Regions from separate parts of the Homo sapiens genome. Here regions 2, 3 and 4 are each linked to region 1. Evidence: fine-mapped expression QTL. A gene starts in region 1. Each other region holds a variant in brackets. All regions are shown on one strand. Distances are between the middles of the regions. Region 1 holds the start of TBXAS1 (thromboxane A synthase 1). Region 2 overlaps TBXAS1 (thromboxane A synthase 1). Region 3 overlaps TBXAS1 (thromboxane A synthase 1). Region 4 overlaps TBXAS1 (thromboxane A synthase 1).

Region 1 (5,149 bases):
GTGTGTGTATGAGGATTAAATGAGTTGACACATAGGAAAGCTCCTAGAATAACTAGTGTGTAGTAAGCACTCAAATGACATGATCATGATCAATTGTTATTATTCATATTTTCAGCCATCAGTGCTCTCTGGCTCGACACCTCCACTCAGATGTCTCCAGGGCATCTCAGGCTTAACAAAACTGAATCAGAATTCTTGATTTTCCCAACAATACCTCACCTTTCCCAGACTCCCTGTTTCAATGAATGGCACCTGATATACCTGTAGCTCAAGTTTGGAACCTGAGGGTCAGGTGTGGTCCTCCTTTCCCCTTCCCTTTCATATGCACCCCACCAGGAACTTCTGCAGAGCATGAACCCACCCCCAAAATATATTTCAAGTCCATCTACTTCTTCCCACCTCCCTCTCTCCTCTAGCCAAGCATCCCTTCTCTCTGGGTGAAGGCAGCAGCCTTCTGTGTGCCCTCCCTGTCTTTTCTCTCACTCCTTTCCAGGGAATCTGCACCTGTGACCACAGCCTTCTGTAACAAATGTACCTGTGACCATCCTAAGACCTGTGGGGGCACAGAAAAGGAAGCCCATAGCTACCCCTGCTGGCTTTTGGTGTCCATTTGCATGAAGTGTCTTTTTCCACCCCTTTACTTTAAGTTTACATGAGTCCTTATGTGTCAGGTGAGTCTCCTGAAGGCAGCAGATAGTTAGTTGGTGAGTTCTTATCCATTCTGCAGTTCTGTATCTTTTAAGTGCAGCATTTAGGCCATTTACATTCAGTGTTAATATTGAAATGTGAGGTACCATTGCATTCATCGGGCTCTTTGTTGCCTGTGTACTTCTTTGTTTGTTTTTTGCTTTTGTTTTTTAACTTGTATTTTTGTTTTATAGGTCCTGTGTGATTTATGCTTTAAAGAGGTTCTGTTTTGATGTGTTTCCAGGATTTGTTTCAAGATTTAGAACTCCTTTTACCAGTTCTTGTAGTGGTGGCTTGGTAATGACGAATTCTCTCAGGATTTGTTTGTCTGAAAATGACTGTATCTTTCCTTCATATATGGTGCTTAGTTTCACTGGATACAAAATTCTTGGCTGATAATTGGTTTGTTGAGGAGCCGGAAGACAGGGCCCCAATCCCTTCCAGCTTGTAGGTTTTCTGCTGAGAAATCTGCTGTTCATCTGATTGGTTTTCCTTTACAGGTTACCTGGTTCTTCTGTCTCACAGCTCTTAAGATTCTTTCCTTTGTCTCAACTCTGGATAACCTGATGACAATGTGCTGAGGCAAAGATCTTTTTACAATGAATTTCCCATGTGTTCTTTGTACTTCTTGTATTTGGATGTCTAGGTCTCTAGATGGCTGCAGAAGTTTTCCTTGATTCTTCCCCCAAATATGTTTTCCAAGCTTTTAGAATTCTCTTCTTCCTCAGGAACACCAATTATTCTTAGGTTTGGTCATTTAACATAATCCCAGACTTCTTGGAGGCTTTGTTCATATTTTCTTATTCTTTTTTCTTTGTCTTTGTTGAATTGGGTTAATTTGAAGACCTTGTCTTTGAGCTCTGATTTTCTTTCTTCTACTTGTTCAATTCTATTGCTGAGACTTTCCAGAGCATTTCACATTTCTAAAAGTGTGTCCAAAGTTTCCTGAATTTTCAATTATTTTTTCTTTAAGCTATTTCATTGAATATTTCTCCCATTCAATATTGGGGGATTGTGTTGGGAGAGGAGGGTCTCCCTTTCCCACTTCCGCAAATGGGGCACTCACAGTATTTGGAGTGTCTTCTGGGTCCTGCAGGAGCAGTCTGGTTCCTTCAGAGAGTCTGTGGGTCCTTTTGGGATTGCTGGTTTTTTCTTGCAGTTGATCTGGAGCTAAAATTCACCATGGAAGCCTCCAGATGCTGCTCTGTCTGAAGCTGCAATCTAGTCCTGCCACCCAGCCACTATGATCCCCTCCATCTCTCTGTCCACTTTAGTCAGATAAGCTCAAAGCTAGAACAAAGGACCCATATATGAGCCTACGGATCTGCCTTCAAACACTTGAGAAGCCCTCCAACTCACCATGAGAACACTGACCCCAATCGGGATCTTTGCTTTGCTCCAACAGCCAGACACTCAGACAGGTCCTCAGACCCAGCAACTAATGGACTTGGTGGGATGGTTGTCCTCAAAGCAGCCAGCATTTTGATCAGGCTGGCGTCTGGTCCTGTATTTTTCTGGGATATTCAGAATCTCTTGACATGTATCTTCACTTAATTGTGAATTTAAAAAATTATAGATGGATGTAGATATAGATATAGATATAGACATAGAGATAGATATAGATAGACATTTTGGAGAAGAGTCTCTCTTTGAAGACTTCCTCTCAGAGTACAAGTCCGTGGTTACAACCATTTTGTTTCTCAGCAAACATGGGGAAGTTTGCTTTTCTTCTCTGAGGAAGTTAATATAAATGTTTATTGACAGTGCAGTCATCAAGGAATAAAGTTGCTGATTCATTCCTTTACACTGAAACCCTTTGTTGTGCCCTCCTCTTCCTTCCTCTTTATAGGGAGACACTCTGAGAAAGAGCACATTGTGGGGGCCCACTCCATGTGATGTTTGCTTGGTTGCCTGTTCCCTTTTCTACCTGCAGAGCACGGTTCCCATAAGGGCGGCGAGATCAGCCTCCTGTCTCATCTGGAAGACCACCACTCTGGGGTCTCAGAGGAATGATGGAAGCCTTGGGGTTTCTAAAATTGGAAGTGAATGGCCCCATGGTGACGGTGGCCCTGTCAGTGGCTCTCTTGGCCCTCCTGAAATGGTAAGTGCAGCCAGCCCTAGGGACTGTGACAGCGTCAGCCGTCTCACCCTGGAGCCTTGCTGGTGCCATGGCGGGGTATGTGGGAGTGTGTTTTTCTTCTTTTCTAATCTAGCGGGAGTGAGTATTAACACAGCTTCAGAATTAAAAGCAAACAGCCAGGTTAATCTTTTGCTAAAATGCATGAGATTGAAGTGTCAGGAAAGGCTGGTGATTCAGTGACTGAGAACGCTACACATAATTAAGTTTGAAAGAGATGGAAAAAGAAACAAATTGGAAAGGCATTAGGTTTGGGTAGAAGCATTTCCTTGAACCCCGTCATATCTCCTCACCTCATTTTTCTAAAATCCTCTGTCCTTGTTGGATTTACAGTGAATTCAGCCTCTTGGTTCATATTACATTCAAAACAAAACAAGACGTAGGAGCTGTTTGGCAAATGTGGGCCTCTTTGCAGGAAGTCATTGAGGGGGATTTCTGTAGGGTTAAGGACAAAGTGGTAGATCTAATTTCTCATAGTTGATAGAGGGAGATGGATTCTGATGAACATAGTGTGTGCAGCTCCTACAAAATTTGAGACCCTGAAAGGATCTCAAACTTGAACTCCGAGTTGCTCCCCTGTGGTTTTGTTAATTCAACAGCAAATTTTCCTAAGGCTGACTCTGGTGTCTGTAGGTCGAAGGCCTCATAATATGCTACATTTATGCATATTCGCCCTGTCAGTTAAACTTATTAGAGTTACCCATTCAATCAAAAGCACCTGGATTTAGATGGCTCTGGCTTTTGAGGGCAAAGTGAGTGGAAAAAATAATGGAGGACTGGAGTCCGAACAGAATTTTAATTTATGTTTTCAGTAGTAATAAAGCCTTCTCTAGATTAATAACTGGGAAAGCACTTTGAAAAGCATCAAGCATTATGCAAATGTGAGGTATTATTCTTTTGGAATTTGCATAGCTGAGAGTGGAATTCACGTTTGATGTTCTATGATGATGAAATTACTTCTTGGAAATTGGCTCTGAAACCCAGCCTCAGTCCCAGTGCTGTTTTTCTTTTTAACTGGTTTAATTTTTTTTTTGAACTTTTTTATCTCATTGTAGCTTACCTTGGATTGAAACTGGCCACATGTAAAACCAAGAGCAAATGGTAGCTCCTTCCCTACCCCCAGCCCCCAATAATCCATCTCAATGTGTTTTTATGCTCCGGGAAGCCCGAAGCACAGTGTCTGACATGCAGAAAGTGCTTAGTCGATGTCAGCCACTATAATTAACCATCTATCATCTATGTAACCTAAAAGAAAATAAGTCTTTAGTGGTTTAGGTTTATTTTTAATTTCTTACTAATGTGCTTATTCATATTAATCTCATCAATAGCTATGCTCTGACTGTGGTTCTCAAAGCGGACACTTTTTTACACTTTTGTTTCAGTCTTTGTTGTGTCTGAGCCTCCAGCTCAGTGCCTGCCATGTAGGAACACCACACCATTCAGCAGGGCAGCTATGTGTTTGCTGTCTATTCTTGGGCCATATTAATAACCTGGTTCAAAGATGCAGAGATTAAGATAAATGTACCAAGCAGAAGTGGTAAACAGGAAGTGAGAGCTGACTTCTATTTGTTATTGCAAAAATATTTATTAACCTGTTAATGTGTGCCCAGTCTGGAGGAGGCCCTGGTACAAGGTCAGGAAGCAGGAGATCTGGAGAAGGTGCCCAAGGCAGGGGAGACACAGAGGTTCTGGGGGTGAGCTGGATGTCTAGAGAGGATACTGCAGGAGGAGCAGAGGCAGCAGGAGAGAGGTCACGGCCCTGGCTCTGGTGCTTTTGGGTCCATCCCTTGATTCAGTGCAAGGGGAACCACCCTTGGGCTTTCAACCCTTCTGTTCCGGGTGAGACTCTAGTCAGCCACTAAGCAACAGCCACCAGCTTGAATGAGGCAAGGCCCCCTTCCTGCTTCATTGTCTTGAAAGGATATGTGTGGAAGAGACAGGGGTGCTTTTCCTCCAGTGAGAGGATTCACAGGCAAGGAAAGATGGAGGTGTAGAGACACTTGCAGGAGAAACTGGCAGGGGGAGTGGATTAAACATTGCAGCACATTAGTCTTTGCTTTAAGTGTTACATGTGCCATCCAGCCAGGTGAGATGGCAGCAGAGAACCTAAACCCTGAGAAGGTGAAATCAAATGGGCTGGGCGCGGTGGCTCATGCCTATAATCCCAGCACTTTGGGAGGCCAAGGCAGACAGATCACTTGAGGTCAGAAGTTCGAGACCAGCCTGGCCAACATGGTGAAACTCCATCTCTACTAAAAATACAAAAATTAGCTGGGCATGGCAGCAGGTGTCTGTAATCCCAGCTACTTGGGAGGCTGAGGCAGG
Region 2 (5,149 bases), 110 kb after region 1:
TATCTGAGTCAGTTTTCCTGGAAATAGCTTTGAAATACCAGCATCTCTAGTCCTTTCTGAATTTGTAAGTAGTCTTTGGACTTTTGTTATCAAACATCAGAGTTTATTCTTGAAATAAAAGTTTGTTTCCCCTTGGAATTCTGAGGCTTTCTCCTTTAGAACCTTGGCAGCCTAAGTCCCTCTCTACCTGTGTCTTTAAGTATGGTCAATATTCAAAAGCTTTGGATGGCGTTGTCTTCGTTTATGCGGATATTAGGTTGCCTCAGTCAACAATGCTTGAAAATGGCTTTAAAATGAGCATCATATCATGAAGCCATATTTGTATTTAAATTAAAATTGTTTTTTTTTTTTGGCCTATGTCATACCAGGGATAATATAGAGCAACAGAGAACCAGGGAAAATGTGATTCATGCATCTCCAAGTCAGGAAAAAGAGACTATTGGAATCATAGCCAGCGACAAACAAGTTATTGGGATTTATAGAAAAGGATGGCTGAGCATTCCTGGAAAAACAACTGACTTTTTGTTGTTGTTGCTGTTGTTAGGGAAGATTTTGTCTGCTTAACTGGCCAGAGTTTTCACTCCATCCCCCGAAGAATTGACGTTTTAAAAAGCACAACTGTAGATTTAGATTTTCACAGTCTTTTGCTAGATTCTTTACCAAAGACTATTAGTGAGTAGTAACCCTGGGATTGTGTAAAACTTTATTAAGGATGAGGGAATAAATAGGTTTAATTTCAGGAAATAAAACTGGGGCTAAATTAGTACTTCTCTGACGGAAAATGTATAAATAATGTGATCCCCTGGGGACCCAGGTTAGCACTAGATTTATTTTTAAATTTTATAACTCATCTGAAAGAGAGAGAACACAGTGGAATCTATATATTTGTATATTCCTCTAAGCTGTTCTGATTTGAAAGATATTAAATCAATAGGAATAACTTTCTGAGACTCTTGTAAGATTGCATAAGTCAGCACAAAAGTGGCAGGTAACCTTCAGTGTAAGCAAGAATAAAAGAATACATTTAGGAGAAAGGCATCTAAACTGTACTTATATGATGATGAATTTCAAGCTATGAATTACTACCAGGGAAAAGGATTTGAAATATGGAGGACCGAAAAGGCCCCATAGTCAAATAATTTGGTGAAATATTACAAACTATATTCTTCAAGATTCACCATGTACCTGAGCATATGAAAGGCTTGAGAAAGGCCTGCAGTAAAGAAACCTGCTTAACTTTGTTTATTCTGGGCTCAAATAGGTTTTCAAAAGGAGAGAACGTGGGTTGTTAACTTCCTGGTTGGCTACTGAGAGAAATGAGTCTCTTGAGCAATTATCCTTTGCAGGTAGCTTCCATGAAGAACCCAGTTTTTGAGTGCCTCTAGCAGAGACTAAGCTTCAAACCTCATTAACCATGGATCCAATCCAATATGGCAGCTTGTATGTTCTCCATTCTCAAAGCCCAATATAAATGATGGGCTTTCTTCATTCACCCAGATAACTAAGAGCTGATGGTACCCCATTGAGCAGATATGGGAGACAATGAATCTTCATAGATGAGTGCCTAAGGATATATGTGTCACTCAAGAGTAAATGAACCAATCATGTTGCTATGCATAGGGACTCAGTTAAAGAAAAGTCAGATAAAATGGGAGGCTGGTATCTCGCACAGCACTGATCCGGCTCTCTGCCTAATTTTTCACTTTTCATCCAGATGTTCCCCGTCAAGAAGGCACAGTCAATAATGTATGAATCTTAAAGGCAGAGGCAGATGTGGTTATTACTCCCTGTAGGCATTTCCTGACTTGGAGACGACATGTTACTCGAGAATGACTACAATTTTTAAAAATTTAAGTTGATATAGCCCGCTTATGAGTAAATGCATTTCAGTGCAAAAGTCTTTTCAGAATTACAGTCATCATCACAGTTTAGTTTGGCCTTTAAATTTTCACTGTAAACTCTCCAGATGGTCACATATGGGGGCTTCTAAGGCAGAACACGCTTCCCAATAACATTAGAGCAAGCAGCCTTCTCTAGGAGGCATCCATTTCCAGCAGTCTATTTTTAATATTTGCTTTTATTTCTTAATCCTCCTGAACAATAAAAATGAACGTCATTATAACCAAGTGTGGCTGTAGTCATCAATACTTCAGAGTCCAAAAATACATTGGCCTTGCCTGACCAGTTGCCCATTTTCTGGAATAGCTGGGTATTTATCTAGCAG[C/T]GAGAGACCATTATCCTGAGACACAGTCGTGTTCCACCGACACCTGATCTACTAATTAAAATCACTATCATGATGGACTGTTTAAATTCTGGTTTAAATGTTCCTTTTGCATTTGCATTTAAAAGAAAACACACTCCTCATCATGGGCACCCCAGCCTGGGTTATAATTTGGCTTTCCTTTGCCAGAATTATAATGTCACTCTGACTTGCCGCTGGTTAAATCTAAAAGAGCATCTAAATGTGCCTCACAGCTTGGCTGTTGCTTGGCAACGCCAGCAGCCACCTCCTCATTGGGGTGACTTCTAATTGGTCACAAGTCTTGACAGGAGCCACTGACTTATTAGAAATGACACTTGATTATTCACCTAGATGGCTAGAGCTGATACTTAGCAGCAGGAAATTTTGCATAAAAAGGAGTCGTGGATGTTTTTAATATCTGGGTGGCTTTTAGCGATGGTGTAGTGGAAGAAGGAAGTGATAAGTTTCATTAGTGGAAATTAATTTTTCATTTGTTGGTCACCAGTTTAGAGCACTTTAAGGCATTAATTTTTTCATTTTAAAAAAAAACCCAGAAATACGTTTAAATACCTTCCCCCACCCCCAGCAGCTGACCCTTACTTATTCAGAAAACCCTCCTCTGACATCAGCCCCAAAATATTGCCCCCAGGTCCACCAAGGGCCAAATCAGATGAAATGTTCAATTTATAAAGGTCAACAAATATTTATTAATTAGTTCCTGTTGTTAAGGAGTTTATAATGTAGAAGAGAAACAAGGTACATAAATCACTGCATTATTACCAATCGTGGAAGGTGGTGACAGAGCTGGGGTCCTGCTTTGAGCATCAGAAGCCACTTTGGCAGGGAGGAAGCAGTGAGTAGCACCGGAATTGAGCTCTGAAGATTTTGCTGTTTTGACAGAGGGAGAAGGTGCATTGCAGGTGGAATGAGCTGCAGGAATCAAGGCATCTGGACAGAAAAGTACAGGGTATGTTCAGGGAATAGGGGAGTACAAATTGGCTGGAACACAGAGTACATGTAAGGGATTAGTGAGAAAGAAAGCTGAAAAAGTAGGTTGAGGCACGTACAGTTCACTGTTCTGTGCCGAGAGAGTGTTTGGTGCACACTTCACTAGAGCTCGAGGAGCTATTAAATACTTGAAAGTGAGGGAGTGACCTGCTCAGAACTCTGTGTTAGGAAAAAGGGTTTCATTTCAGCTGTTTAGCCCCCAAGCCAGCCATTTCCCAGACCCATGGGGCAAATCTTTCTGGTGCAGATGAGGGGAACTGTGAATTGTCTGGAGGAGTCTCCTCTTTGTAGTAGCCCCAAGTATGGGCAGGCTCCCAGGGGCCATGTTATGACATCAAGGCAGCGGTGTCCACTGTGGCTCTTTTGAGTCCCTCTTCGTGTGTGGATCAACAAGTCACCCAAGCTACACACCATCAACGTTTGGGGCTTATCTCTGTTTAGATGGATAGGGTTATGTAAAAAAGACCCTCTCCTTCCCTCTCTCTGTGTAGGAAATATGTTTTCCCTAGCACTCAGCATTGTCCAAACTTTCAGGAACTCCAAAGGCTTAAAGATGGTGGGTTTTTTCTTTCTCAAGTTTATGACATAAGATCTGCACAGAATGACCTAGAAGTGAATAAACTAAGGAGCAAAGGAAATGTGGAGGCTGAGTTTTGTGGGAAAGCAACAAGCCAGGAGTCAGGATATCTGGGGTTCCAATTCTCATTTGAACACAAAAATAACCAGATTCTGCCCTTTAGGTCCCTATGTATTCTGAAGTTGATGTGTCAAAGAAATGACAAAAGGCTTTCTTGGGAATGGGATGTGTTGCTGAAAGCACATGGACCAATGATCTGACACTTCCCTGCACTGAGCTAAGAATTTGGCTGCTCTCTCCATGGCTTCAAGCAACTGTCTCAACCTGATGCTTTGTGACCTCCTTGGAATCTTCAAATGTCAGTGGAAAGGGACATTATAGCTCATTGCGATCAGCCCTTCATTTAGGGATGAGGACCCACGTTCAGAGAGATTCAAATGCCAGGTCCAAAGTAACACATAGGACCAGCATGAGTCTCAGCTTTCTTCTTCAGAGCCAGTTTTCAGCAAACCACACTGTATTCATGCTAAGAGACAGTGCCTCAATCTGTTCATGTTTCTTGGGTACCTTCTATGTCAAGGCTCTCAAGGAACATTTGATCAATCAGTCATCACACAGGTATTTCTAGAAAATCAACAGAATGGGGTGTGCTATGCTCATTCTTGATATAACAAATACCAAAAACTTCATTAATCCATGACAACATGCAATAGTTACCACAAAAGAGCAATATTGAGAGTGTATTAGTTATCTATTGCTGTGTAACAAAATTACCCCAAAACTTAGTGGCTTAAAACAAACTTTTGTTAGCTCATTGTTTCTGTGGGTCAGGAATCCTGGCATGGCTTAGCTGAGTGCAAAGGCTGAGTCCAGAGGGACTGAGGGCTGAGGCCAGAGGGATCAAGGTGTCTTGGAGTAGTAGTCAAATGGCTGGCCTGATCTGTGGTCTCATCTGAAGGCTTGACTGGGGGAAGATCTGCTTCTAAGCCTCATCACACGGTTATTAGCAGGATTCAATTCGTAATGGACTTTGGAAGATAAGAATCTTGTACTGTGTCCTTCAGTCAGTGGGGATCTACAAATGTTTCAGCAAAGCATTACTGAAATAACAAGTATTTTTGGAAGATCTGGCCAGGCATGGTGGCTCATGCCTGTAATCCCAGAACTTCAAGAGGCCAAGGTGGGAGGATCGTTTGAACCCAGGAGTTCAAGACCAACTTGGGCAACATAGGGAGACCCCGTTTCTACAAAACATTAAAAAAATTAGCCAGCTGTGGTTGTGTGTGTCTGTAGTCCCAGATATTAATACTTGAGGGGCTGAA
Region 3 (5,149 bases), 130 kb after region 1:
AAATAGACGTTTAGAGCTATTGTATTTTATGAATATTTGTGAATTTTAGGATCTTCTTCTTGAATCTTAGCTGTGTGAAAAATATCTTCCAAACAGTGTTCATTTTCCCAGAAAGCACTACATATAACCTCTTCATCTGCAGCCAATTTAGGTGTACTCCCGGCATGGTGCCCTAATTACACCTTTGTTATCCATTATCAGATGGTTCCCCTCATCAGCCAAGCCTGCGACCTTCTCCTGGCTCATTTAAAACGCTATGCGGAATCTGGGGACGCATTTGACATCCAGAGGTAAGGCTGCTGCATTACAGATGAGAAATCGAGTTTTTGAATCACTGCTTCTTGTAACTGTCCATAATTGCTGACAATTACCTTGGGACTAGCAAACTGTGGAAACGCTAGAAGCTCATAAAAGCATGGATGGACTGATTAATAAAAAGAAAAGAAACCCACTTAACATGGGAAAGAGATGTGAGCAGAGCCAGGGTACGTGCGTCCTGTCGAACCTGTGGATGGATCCACCCTCTGACCTCCACAGACCCAGGAATGGGCAGGACAGGCCTGCGCCTAAGGACAGGGATGGGGGGAAAGTTCAAGCATTTTCACTTCAAGAAAAATTGTGGTGCACCTCAGCCCAGAAGCTATAATTTAGTGGTGGACACCAAATTTAAATAACTGATTATCTGGCTTTTCGTCATTTTGTAACTAAAAGGTTTTTGCTTTAAAAAAACATCTTTAGTCTAAGTTTGTCCGACCCACAGCCCGCTGGCCACAAGCAGCCCAGGATGGCATTGAATGTGGCCCAACACAAATTTATAAACTTTCTTAAAACATTGTGAGTTTTTTTGCAGTTTTTTTTTTTCTCATCAGCTATCGTTAGTGTTACTGTATTTTATGTGTGGCCAAGACAATTCTCCTGCTTCCAACGTGGCCCAGGCAAGCCAAAAGATTTAGCCACCTTTGCTTTAGTCATTTTATGCCAAATCATGGCTTACAGCAGATAAAGAATAAAGTGGGATGGTGAATCATCCAGAAATTTATTCATTATTATCATTGCTAATAAAATAATAACATAATCATCACCAACACTGGTATTGCACCAGTTTACACAGTCTTTTCATCCACATTGTCTCTGATTATTATAGGATGCATGAGTTGGCTAAAGATAAGGTGGCCTCATCAGCTATAAAAGCAAAGTAAATAACCCTCAAGACCCTTAAATCTTCAACCTTCAGGATCAGATGAAATCACATTCAGTAGTCTCATTCTTGTTTTCACTCTAGCAGGGAAACGTGTAATCAGTTGTAGAAACGTTTTCAATAAAAGCAGTGTGAATTTTAAAAGTCATCTGGAAACGTCATGTATTCCTTAATGATAAGTTAGTGGTTATAGAATTCATGTACAAAAGGAGTTAAGTGTGTGCCTACATTGAGAACAAAAATTGGCCTTTTAATTATAAAAAGATATTAATAACCCAGTTTTTAGCTTTTTGGAAAAGAACTTAATCTGACTACTCCTATAAGATAACAAAAAGAATCATTTGAGTTTAAAATGGCCTTTTGAGGGGGCAGCTTTCCTATAGCCTAAGAGGTTAAATTTTCTGGAGCTCCTGCCAGACACTTTTCCTTCTGTTTGTTTCTAAAGCACAATGTATGTTTTCTGTAATAATATACAGATGTTCATGAAGCCTGCCTTAAAGTTTGTCTTGTGTTTATTTGAGTGCTAAGAGCCCTTGCTTTTTGTTCATTGCTATTAAGAAAACTGTAAAATCATTAAGAGGAAGAGGGAGACAAAGTTAATAAAACTAGATAATTAGGTTGTTAATTCATCAAGGACAATTTGATGTCTATCAGTCAATCATTAGATTCTGGCCTGAGCTGGGCTGTGCAGAGCTTTGGGTACAGCATGTAGGCGTTGGGTCACCTGTGTGCCCTCCTTCCCAGGGAGGAAACTATAAAGTGTCCTTCTTAGTACCTGGCTGTGTTCTGGTTGACCACAGCTGCCTGAGGCTCGAAGGTGGAAGAGGCTGTGCCCTCCTCTCCTCCCAGGTCTTTGTTTAGACGCCAGGTCTTCGTGTCTCCTCCCACCCTCTGCCGTCACTGCTCAGAGTGCCCCATCCAGGAGCCCATCTCCCTCCACCTCCCCCCAGATCTGCAGAAGCTCCTCTTCCAGACACATCTGCAGGGCTGGGCAAGCCAGTGTAAGCAATTCAGGCCCTCCTCCTCTGGAGGGGGCCATTGTGGGTAGCCCCTGCCAGAGTCCTTTCAGATCTCTGTGCTCCCATCTCCCGTAGGTGCTACTGCAATTACACCACAGATGTGGTTGCCAGCGTCGCCTTTGGCACCCCGGTGGACTCCTGGCAGGCCCCTGAGGATCCCTTTGTGAAACACTGCAAGCGTTTCTTCGAATTCTGCATCCCCAGACCTATCCTGGTTTTACTCTGTAAGTGCGGCTGCAGCCCGGGGCGCTGCGATGACTCCAGCAAGTTGGGCAGACCCCATGACACCTGGGGTGGCTTCTGGGGCTCTGTCCCTGCCACTGGGAAAGGGCACTCGGGTTGTTCCCCTGCAGAGGCTTTGTCTTATGGAGCCACCGGGTTCCTCTTGTCACCCGCCTAGGGCCACTTATTAGCAATGCTGTAGCCCTGGCATTGGTAATAAGTGGCCCCACCGCCATGGTGAGAACGGTTGGGACGCACCGTGTTAGGCACGGGGTGTGCGTTGCCTCACTTAGTCCTAGTACTCACCCTATGAGAAAAATATTCTTGTCCCTATTTCTCAGGTGTGAAACAGGCCTAGAAAGGCCGAGCTGAGACTGGAACCCAAAGCCTTTCATTTCCTAGGGCATATTTCTTTCCTTCAGCAAAATCCTCTTCACAAGACTTCTCCACTTGAAGCCCAACACACAGAAATCCTGTGTGGTGGATGAGGATTAGGTCACCCAATGCACGAGGACCAGTCTATTTATTTTATTTTATTTATTATTATTATTATTTTTTTAGATGGAGTTTCGCTGTTGTTGTCCAGGCTGGAGTGCAATGGCACGATCTCGGCTCACCGCAACCTCCGCCTCCTGGGTTCAAGCGATTCTCCTGCCTCAGCCTCCTGAGTAGCTGGGATTACAGGCATGCACCATCACGACCAGCTAATTTTGTATTTTTAGTAGAGAAGGGGTTTCTCCATGTCGGTCAGGCTGGTCTCAAACTCC[C/T]GACCTCAGGTGATCCGCCCACCTTGGCCTCCCAAAGTGCTGGGATTACAAGCGTGAGCCACCACACCAGGACTTATTTTATTTTTATTGTAGAAGTGAGATTTTGCCCTCTGGCCAATTCTAGTATCTTCTTGCTTTTATAGGAGCATTGACGTGTTGTTATGCTTGGTATTGATTATTGCCATGATTTCTAACCATTCTGCTGGGCTGGTAAATTCCATTCATTCCTTGACCAGTTTCATTCCCGTTTCTGAGCCGATGTCCATGGGAGCCCGTCACCTCACTGGCTCCGCCCTGAAATCGTAGGCAGAGTCACTCTGAGTGTCCAGCAGTCTCTTCCTGCACCCTTTCCACCGATCTTGGAGGCAGCGCAGGCTGTGTCTGCCCCTTGTGCCTCAACCACGGCCCAGGCCTGTGGGGCAGGTGGCTCAGTTGTGCCATCCCTTCTATTTCTCCTCTCTGCCTCTGCAGGGCCCTCCTGCTGCTGTGTCACATTGGTTCGGACTCTGGCTCTTGAAAATGGGCCTGCGCATTCTGAGAGCATGTGTGTCTGGAGATGTTCTCCCCAGCCCAGCTCCCATAGAGCCCGGTACAGGGTGAACCCACAATGGAAGCTGAGAAGCTGAACCCAGCCAGTGCCCCTCTCCAGGGGAGATGAGGGGTTCCTGACTCTGGCAGCCCGATCCCCAGCACATGGCAGCAAGGGCCCATGCTGCACCCAGGGGCCGGCAAGGGAGGCACCCACAGCAGCAACAGCCAGTACCCTTGTCAGCAGCTGCAGTGGCAGCTCTTGGGAGCAATTCAGGAGGTCATGCTGGGAACAATTATCCACTGGAAAGAAAATTCAAATGACCAGAAAGTTTGTAAAAAGTAAATCAGCTTCTACCACTTGCTAAGGCTTGAAACAGCCTGTAATCCTTTCTCTCTTAATGAAGTACAAAGACCTTCAGGTCTCATCCCCAGGACCTGAAACATTAATTTATGAGGGTGACCTTGACCTCTTGAGGGCCAGATGGAAGTGCAGACTCGATTAATTGCACAGATGTTTATTGAGTGCTTACTATGTGCCAGGAATGGTGAGGAGTACCGAGAGGGAGTGAGACATCACCCCTGCTCTCAGAAGCAGCAGTGCGGCGGGGAGGGCAGGACTCCAAAACGGCTCCGATTCCAGGCCCGCGTTTGCTTCCCGGGAACAGGCGTCTAATGGCCCTGGTTTATTATCACCCCCTTTTCAATGCCACTTTTGTTTTTCTCTTTCAAGTATCATTTCCATCCATAATGGTCCCACTGGCCCGGATTTTGCCCAATAAGAACCGAGACGAACTGAATGGCTTTTTTAACAAACTCATTAGGAATGTGATTGCCTTGCGGGACCAGCAAGCTGCCGAAGAGGTAACGTATTTTAATAGGACACAGCCTTGAAATGGAATGGAGCCGACTTTGGCATCACTGTCTCTGCTCTTTCTCTTCCCTCTCAGCCCCGCACATCACACCGTGCCGTCCTTCAGCAACCCACCACTTACAGCTTCCAGGGACAGTGGAGAGAACAGAGGAAGGTTGAGGAAGGTCAGACAAGAAAGGGAGGGTGGGACGGCAGAGAGAAGCCTACAGCAATGTGTACATCCTCGGACACGGACGGGTAGAATTAAAGCCGCCCCCAAAACTGTCTCCCTAGTGCAAGCATCAACCCAAGCACAGGTTAGAATAGCCCAGAAGAATTTTCTGGGTAAGTGTGCCCACATGCAATTTTCATGAGCATATTCTTTATATTGAAAACCCAGCAAGATGGAGTTCTCCAGCATGAACAGCATGCTTATTAGAGAGTTCGGCAACTGTCAGTCACTAACCCCACACTCCCACTCAGCATGGAGGATGTCGCTACAGAACTCGTGGTTGAGGGCCCCCTGGACTCCTTGGCACGATTCATATGAGACGTAGCATTT
Region 4 (5,149 bases), 58 kb after region 1:
AAGGAATGGCCTGGAAACTGGAAATAATCCCATTTGCCGGGGTAAGCTAGCTGTGGAAAACTGACCAGGCTGTGGGTACCGAGAGAGCAGCTTCCTGCTAAACTTCCTGCTGTGGGTGAAGGGCAGCGTTTAAAGAGTAAGATGGTGCTCCCCATTCCAGCAAACACTGGCCACAGTGGACAGTCCAGGAGAGAGCTGTGCACCAGGAAGGTGTCAGCTGGACAGTAGTCAGGCGTCCAGTAAAGCAGCGATGAGGAGGCTGTCAGTGGACACCAGGGCCCCACTAGTGGGTGGTTCAGGAACCTGAGAAGCCCCCGGCCCTGAGAAAGGAGTCTAGGTAGTACAGCAGGGTCTCAGCGGTGAGGGCTCTGAGGATGAACCAGGAATTGACATTCAGTTCTAAGATTCACAGCATCATGTGAGGCCCAGGACCAGAAGCCAGACCTAATCTCCGATATCAGTCAGGGTGGACAGGTCCATCATGGTTGGAACAGATCCATGCTGGAGAGGCACCGAGTCTCATGATGTGTGGCTGGAGGTTGTTCCTGCTTCTGGGGCCAGGGCTGGGCCTGCAGATGAGGGACAGAGCACCTGGCTAGAAAGGAGAGAGGACTGCAGCGGCTGGAGCGTCAGCCACAGATTTTTAATTTTGCTTTCCTTGATATTCACATCCAAAATCTACCATGGAGAACTGTATATCACGTTCAAGGTGGAAGGGAACTAACTCATTCCTCATTAGTAACTATCAAATATGGCATCAGTACCTTCTTTATCCTGTAAGTGACAGCTCTGCACAGATGTGTTCCCAATCGATAGAATGTCTCAATTAAAGTTGCATAAAAGCTCTATTTTGAGCTAATATCTTCAAATAATAAATTCCACATTTAATTGAAGCGTACCTGCAACAAATCCAAGTTGTTCAACCCAAAATGCATAATAGAGTATGTAAAACAGTCATGAATCACTGTGACATTTGTCAAGGCATTCTCCCATCTGGAAGCAGGTCCAGAAAGCACATGGCTGTATGCATATATCTTTTGTCAAGAACTTTGCACAGACAGTCTCAAAAAGTGCACACATTTACCCAATTCTTAGGGCTCTTCACTCTGATTGAGAATGCAAATAGCATTCCTATTCTATCTAAAAAGAAGAAAGACAAGCCATCTTTGATTTCAAAATTTAAAAGAAATTATTACTAAATTTGAAGAAGCAATGAGTTCCCAATTCACTTAGAGCTTAAAGTTCCTCTTTCATCACTATTTTGTGAGCAGAGGAACTTTTTCCAAACAAGTTCTTAGAAATCCTTGCTTGATTAAAAACCAGTTCTAAATCTTGTTACTCACATAGGGCAAAAGGTAAAGGAATCTAAATGTCTAAAACCAAATTAACTCCAGATACTAGTGTGAACTTTCAAGCAAAAAAAGTCACACACCACCGCATACACGTTTGAAATTCTACTAAATTTTGAATGTTTGACGTTAGCCTTTAAACTGGAACATATTCTTCTTTCTTCCTTAGGATCTTTAAATCTTTTAAAGTTTGGGTTGTTTACTATGCATTCTAATTACTCCTGATCACTCTTATGTGTAACATTTCTATAGCTATGCACACAAAGTAATTCCTTAGCAAGGCCCCACCAAGTTTTATGATGCCTGCTTGCCTAGGGCAGATAATATAAACTTAACTACGAAAATAAGTTCTTTGATTATTCTTCGTATCTCAAGACCGTGCTCCTAACAACCTCTCCTCCATCTCACCCTCAAGCTGCAAGAATTTTGCAACCCACTCTATGAAGTTTTTCCACCCTGAGTAAGGCTGTCAGTTTATTGGCCTATTTATAAAGGTCTGACTCTCTGACATGTTCTCCAGGCTCCCCACATTAACCACTAAGGAGGCACTCTTTGCAGATGAATTTTTTTTTTTTTTTTTTTTTTTTTGGCCTCGGCTTAAAGAGGAACCTATTAACCTTTGCCCGGAATCTATGGCTGGTGAATGGCTTGTCATAGCATGTTAGTTTGATGAGGCAATTGTGGTCTTTTTTGTTAAAACACCCCCCAGCACCTCTTGATACTACTTGGCCTACTGGAGATGTGGGCATCCAGGATTGAATCAAAACTACTGCACTTCACAACAGAGCTACTGCAGGAAGGAAATCCAGGTACTCCCTGGCTTGTGCCACCTCCATCTTTTCCGTGGCTAATGTAATGCCTAGTGCATATTCACCACAAAGAGGCAACTGTTGAATGGCTCTTCCATTTGCCTTTGAAGATTGCTTGTAACTCTTCAAGTTCACTTCTTCATCTCACTGCCAGACCACAGCTTGAGACTGATGATTGACATGGCCACTAGGTTCTTCCCAAAGACTCCAGCCTAAAGATTGTTAGCTGCTTCCCCCAAAGGCTTAGCCTTCTCTGCTAGAGTTTTGGTTCTTTGGAGCATCCCATGAGCAAGAAGCCTCAGCTCTTTGTCCTCCTCTGTGTAGGAGCCCACAAGGATGCTTTATCTCCAATCTGGAATGGACACTTAGCATCCT[G/T]AGTTCTGCCCTGCTCAAAATCCATACCTGTTCATGAGTACCAGGGCTTCAGGGCCCGAGAACCCACAGCTAACACCCATAGGAGAAAGGTTTCATATGAGTAGGTGGGATGGGTTTTCATGCCTCTACAACCTGGCCAGCAGGAGGAACACTGTGACCCATGGTTTCAGAATTGATGGTCTCCCACTTCTCGGTTAGATCTAGGTATTGAGAATAACCTGAAGGACATTTGGCTGGAGGACATTATTTTTATTGTGTTAAAATATGCATCACACAAAATGTACTCTCCTATTTTTCATTGTATAGATCAGTTGCATTAAGTACCTTCACATTGTCGTGCAGCTATCATCATCGTTCACATCCAGAATTTTTTTCATCTTGCAAAGCTGAAACTTTGTCCTCATTAAACATTAACTCTCCCTTCCCTCCTCCCCCAGGCCCTGACAACCACCATTTTACCTTCTGTCTCTACAAATTTGACTACTCTAAGTACCTCAATAAAGTGGAATCATATGGTATTTTTCCTTTTGTAACTGGTTTATTTCACTTAATATAATATCCTCAAGGTTAATCCATGTTGTAGCACATGGGAGAACTACTGCCTTTTTAAGGCTGAGTAATATTCCATTGTAAGCCTATTCTGCCTTTTGTTTATTCGTTTGTTTGTAGATGGCGGAGTGTGTTACTTCCAGCATTGAGCTAATGTGAATAATGTTACTTGAATATGGATGTGGAAATACCTCTTTGAGACCCTGCTTTTAGTTCTTTTGGGTATATATGCAGAGGTGGAATTGCCAGATCACAGAGTAAATCTATTTTTAGCTCTTTGAAGACCGTCATACTGTTTTCCATAGTGACCATACCATTTCACCTTTGGAGGACATCTTATAGCAATGCTTTGTTGTCCCCTTTTCACCACGATTATGTGGCCATTACTTCTTGTTTTCAAACCTTGAGAGTGAGCTCAGGTTAAATTTACACTTCCCTTTGTGCCCTGGATCCCAACTGGTCAAGGTGAACCACACATTTCTAATTGGAATGTATGACCCCAGTGACTTTGCCTGTAACTTCCTTTTGGCTAGGCCAGTAAGCGCATTTTTAACCAAACCGACCCCATTATCAACAAATGCTTGCACTGCACGATAAATTCAGTTTGCTTTAATAAATTCCCAGTAGTCCTCACCCAGAGCTCCTTCTCCTCTTATCTCACTCCTTGCTGCCAAACCCTTTACAATTTATGTGTCTGCCTTTCGGTTCTGCCTTCAGCCCCCTCCAAGTTTCCTCTTTCCCACCAGCTCACTGTGGCCTTTGTGTCTCACATAAATTTTGTCTTCTGTGTCTGAAACTCTTACTGACTTCTGCTTCCTTGTTCCCTGGGTCTACACTGTTCCTTCTCTTCCTGGAACTGACCCTTCGATCTCTGGGCTTCCTACCTTGAGTAATTTGTCAAAATCCTGTTCTTGCAATTGGTGGCTTCTCAATTTTTTTCCTCTGGGTTTTTTTCCCACAGTCTTTCCACTATATCACAGGGCATACACTCCTGCTTCATGACTGTTCATGACATATTGAATTCCCCTCTTGTACCCCACAGTCTCTGCACTGAGTGTGTGCTCATTGGGAAAGGTTAGCTCACATTATACCTATCCAAAAAAGGAGAGGTGGCAGGTGGCCTGTGGAGAAGAGTGTATCCAGGCACATATGCATGGGAGAAAGTTCAGAGGTTTTGGCTGAGATAGAAAGAAGAAGAGTAGAGGCCAAATGTGTGCTAGGAAAATGTGATGTTTGGGGCACAAGTAGAGAGGACAACCTTGGCAGTGGCAGATGAGAGAGAACCTCAGGACTGGTGCTAAGGAGGTGGGTTATTTAAAGAAAGTTGTGCAGGTATAGAGTGGAGAAGGGGTGCAGGGGGAGGATGGAATTGAGTTAAAAAAAAAAACTAGCAAAAAACATTCTGATAGCACAGGTGAGAGAGATAAGAGTGATTTAGATTATCAGAAATGGAAGGAAAAGAAGGAGAATTTTATAGAGAAAGTGTCCTGTAGTGGCCGGGTGTGGTGACTCGTGCCTGTAATTCTAGCACATTGGGAGGCCGAGGTGGGGAGATTGCTTGAGCCCAGGAGTTTGAGACAGCCTGGGCAATATAGTGAAACCACATCTCTACAAAAAATACCAAAATTAGCTGGGTGTGGTGGCATGTGCGCCTGTTGTCCCAAGTACTTTGGAGGCTGAGATAGGAGGATCGCTTGAGCCAGGAAGGCAGAGGCTGCAGTGAGCTGAGATCATGTCACTGTAATCCTGTCGAAAAAAAAGGAAAAAAAAAAAAGAAAAGAAAATGTCCTAAAAATGCAGCAAGTCATTGATTGTAACAAGTAAGAGATGAGTCAACATTAATCACTGAGGCTGACTTCAAATGCTGGAGACAACATGGTGATTCCACCATAATTAAGAGGTTGAACAGGGCAAAGACAAAATAGTTTTATCTTTTTCTTAATCCGTTGGAGCTTGTCCTCATCCTCATGTGTTCAAGCTGTTATAACAAAGTGCCATAGACTGGGTGGCTTATGAATAACAGAAATTTATTTCTCATAGTTGTGGGGACTGGGAAGTCCAAGATCA

Evidence for each region.
Region 2: its variant is fine-mapped to the expression of TBXAS1 in whole blood (INTERVAL, PIP above 0.99).
Region 3: its variant is fine-mapped to the expression of TBXAS1 in whole blood (INTERVAL, PIP 0.99).
Region 4: its variant is fine-mapped to the expression of TBXAS1 in whole blood (TOPMed, PIP 0.94).

What each region holds. Positions count from the first base shown.
Region 1 is chr7:139,826,692-139,831,840 of GRCh38, forward strand. It overlaps TBXAS1 (thromboxane A synthase 1), which reads left to right and starts at 2,573. Exons shown (of 13, transcript NM_001061.7): 1 at 2,573-2,788. The coding sequence starts at 2,700. RefSeq lists an enhancer at 2,246-3,445.
Region 2 is chr7:139,941,095-139,946,243 of GRCh38, forward strand. All of the region lies in intron 5 of TBXAS1 (thromboxane A synthase 1), which reads left to right. LOC105375532 (a long non-coding RNA gene) reads left to right here. Exons shown (of 2, transcript XR_928043.3): 1 at 1-3,209; 2 at 3,991-5,149. Among named protein-coding and RNA genes, the nearest start is that of TBXAS1, 110 kb to the left of the region's middle. The variant C/T (reference allele first, on the strand shown) is at 2,225.
Region 3 is chr7:139,953,167-139,958,315 of GRCh38, forward strand. It overlaps TBXAS1 (thromboxane A synthase 1), which reads left to right. Exons shown (of 13, transcript NM_001061.7): 6 at 202-290; 7 at 2,293-2,441; 8 at 4,468-4,598. Among named protein-coding and RNA genes, the nearest start is that of PARP12, 110 kb to the right of the region's middle. RefSeq lists enhancers at 2,298-2,798, 3,730-4,230. The variant C/T (reference allele first, on the strand shown) is at 3,207.
Region 4 is chr7:139,884,475-139,889,623 of GRCh38, forward strand. The region is part of intron 3 of TBXAS1 (thromboxane A synthase 1); the gene reads left to right. Among named protein-coding and RNA genes, the nearest start is that of TBXAS1, 58 kb to the left of the region's middle. RefSeq lists a silencer at 3,616-3,910. The variant G/T (reference allele first, on the strand shown) is at 2,534.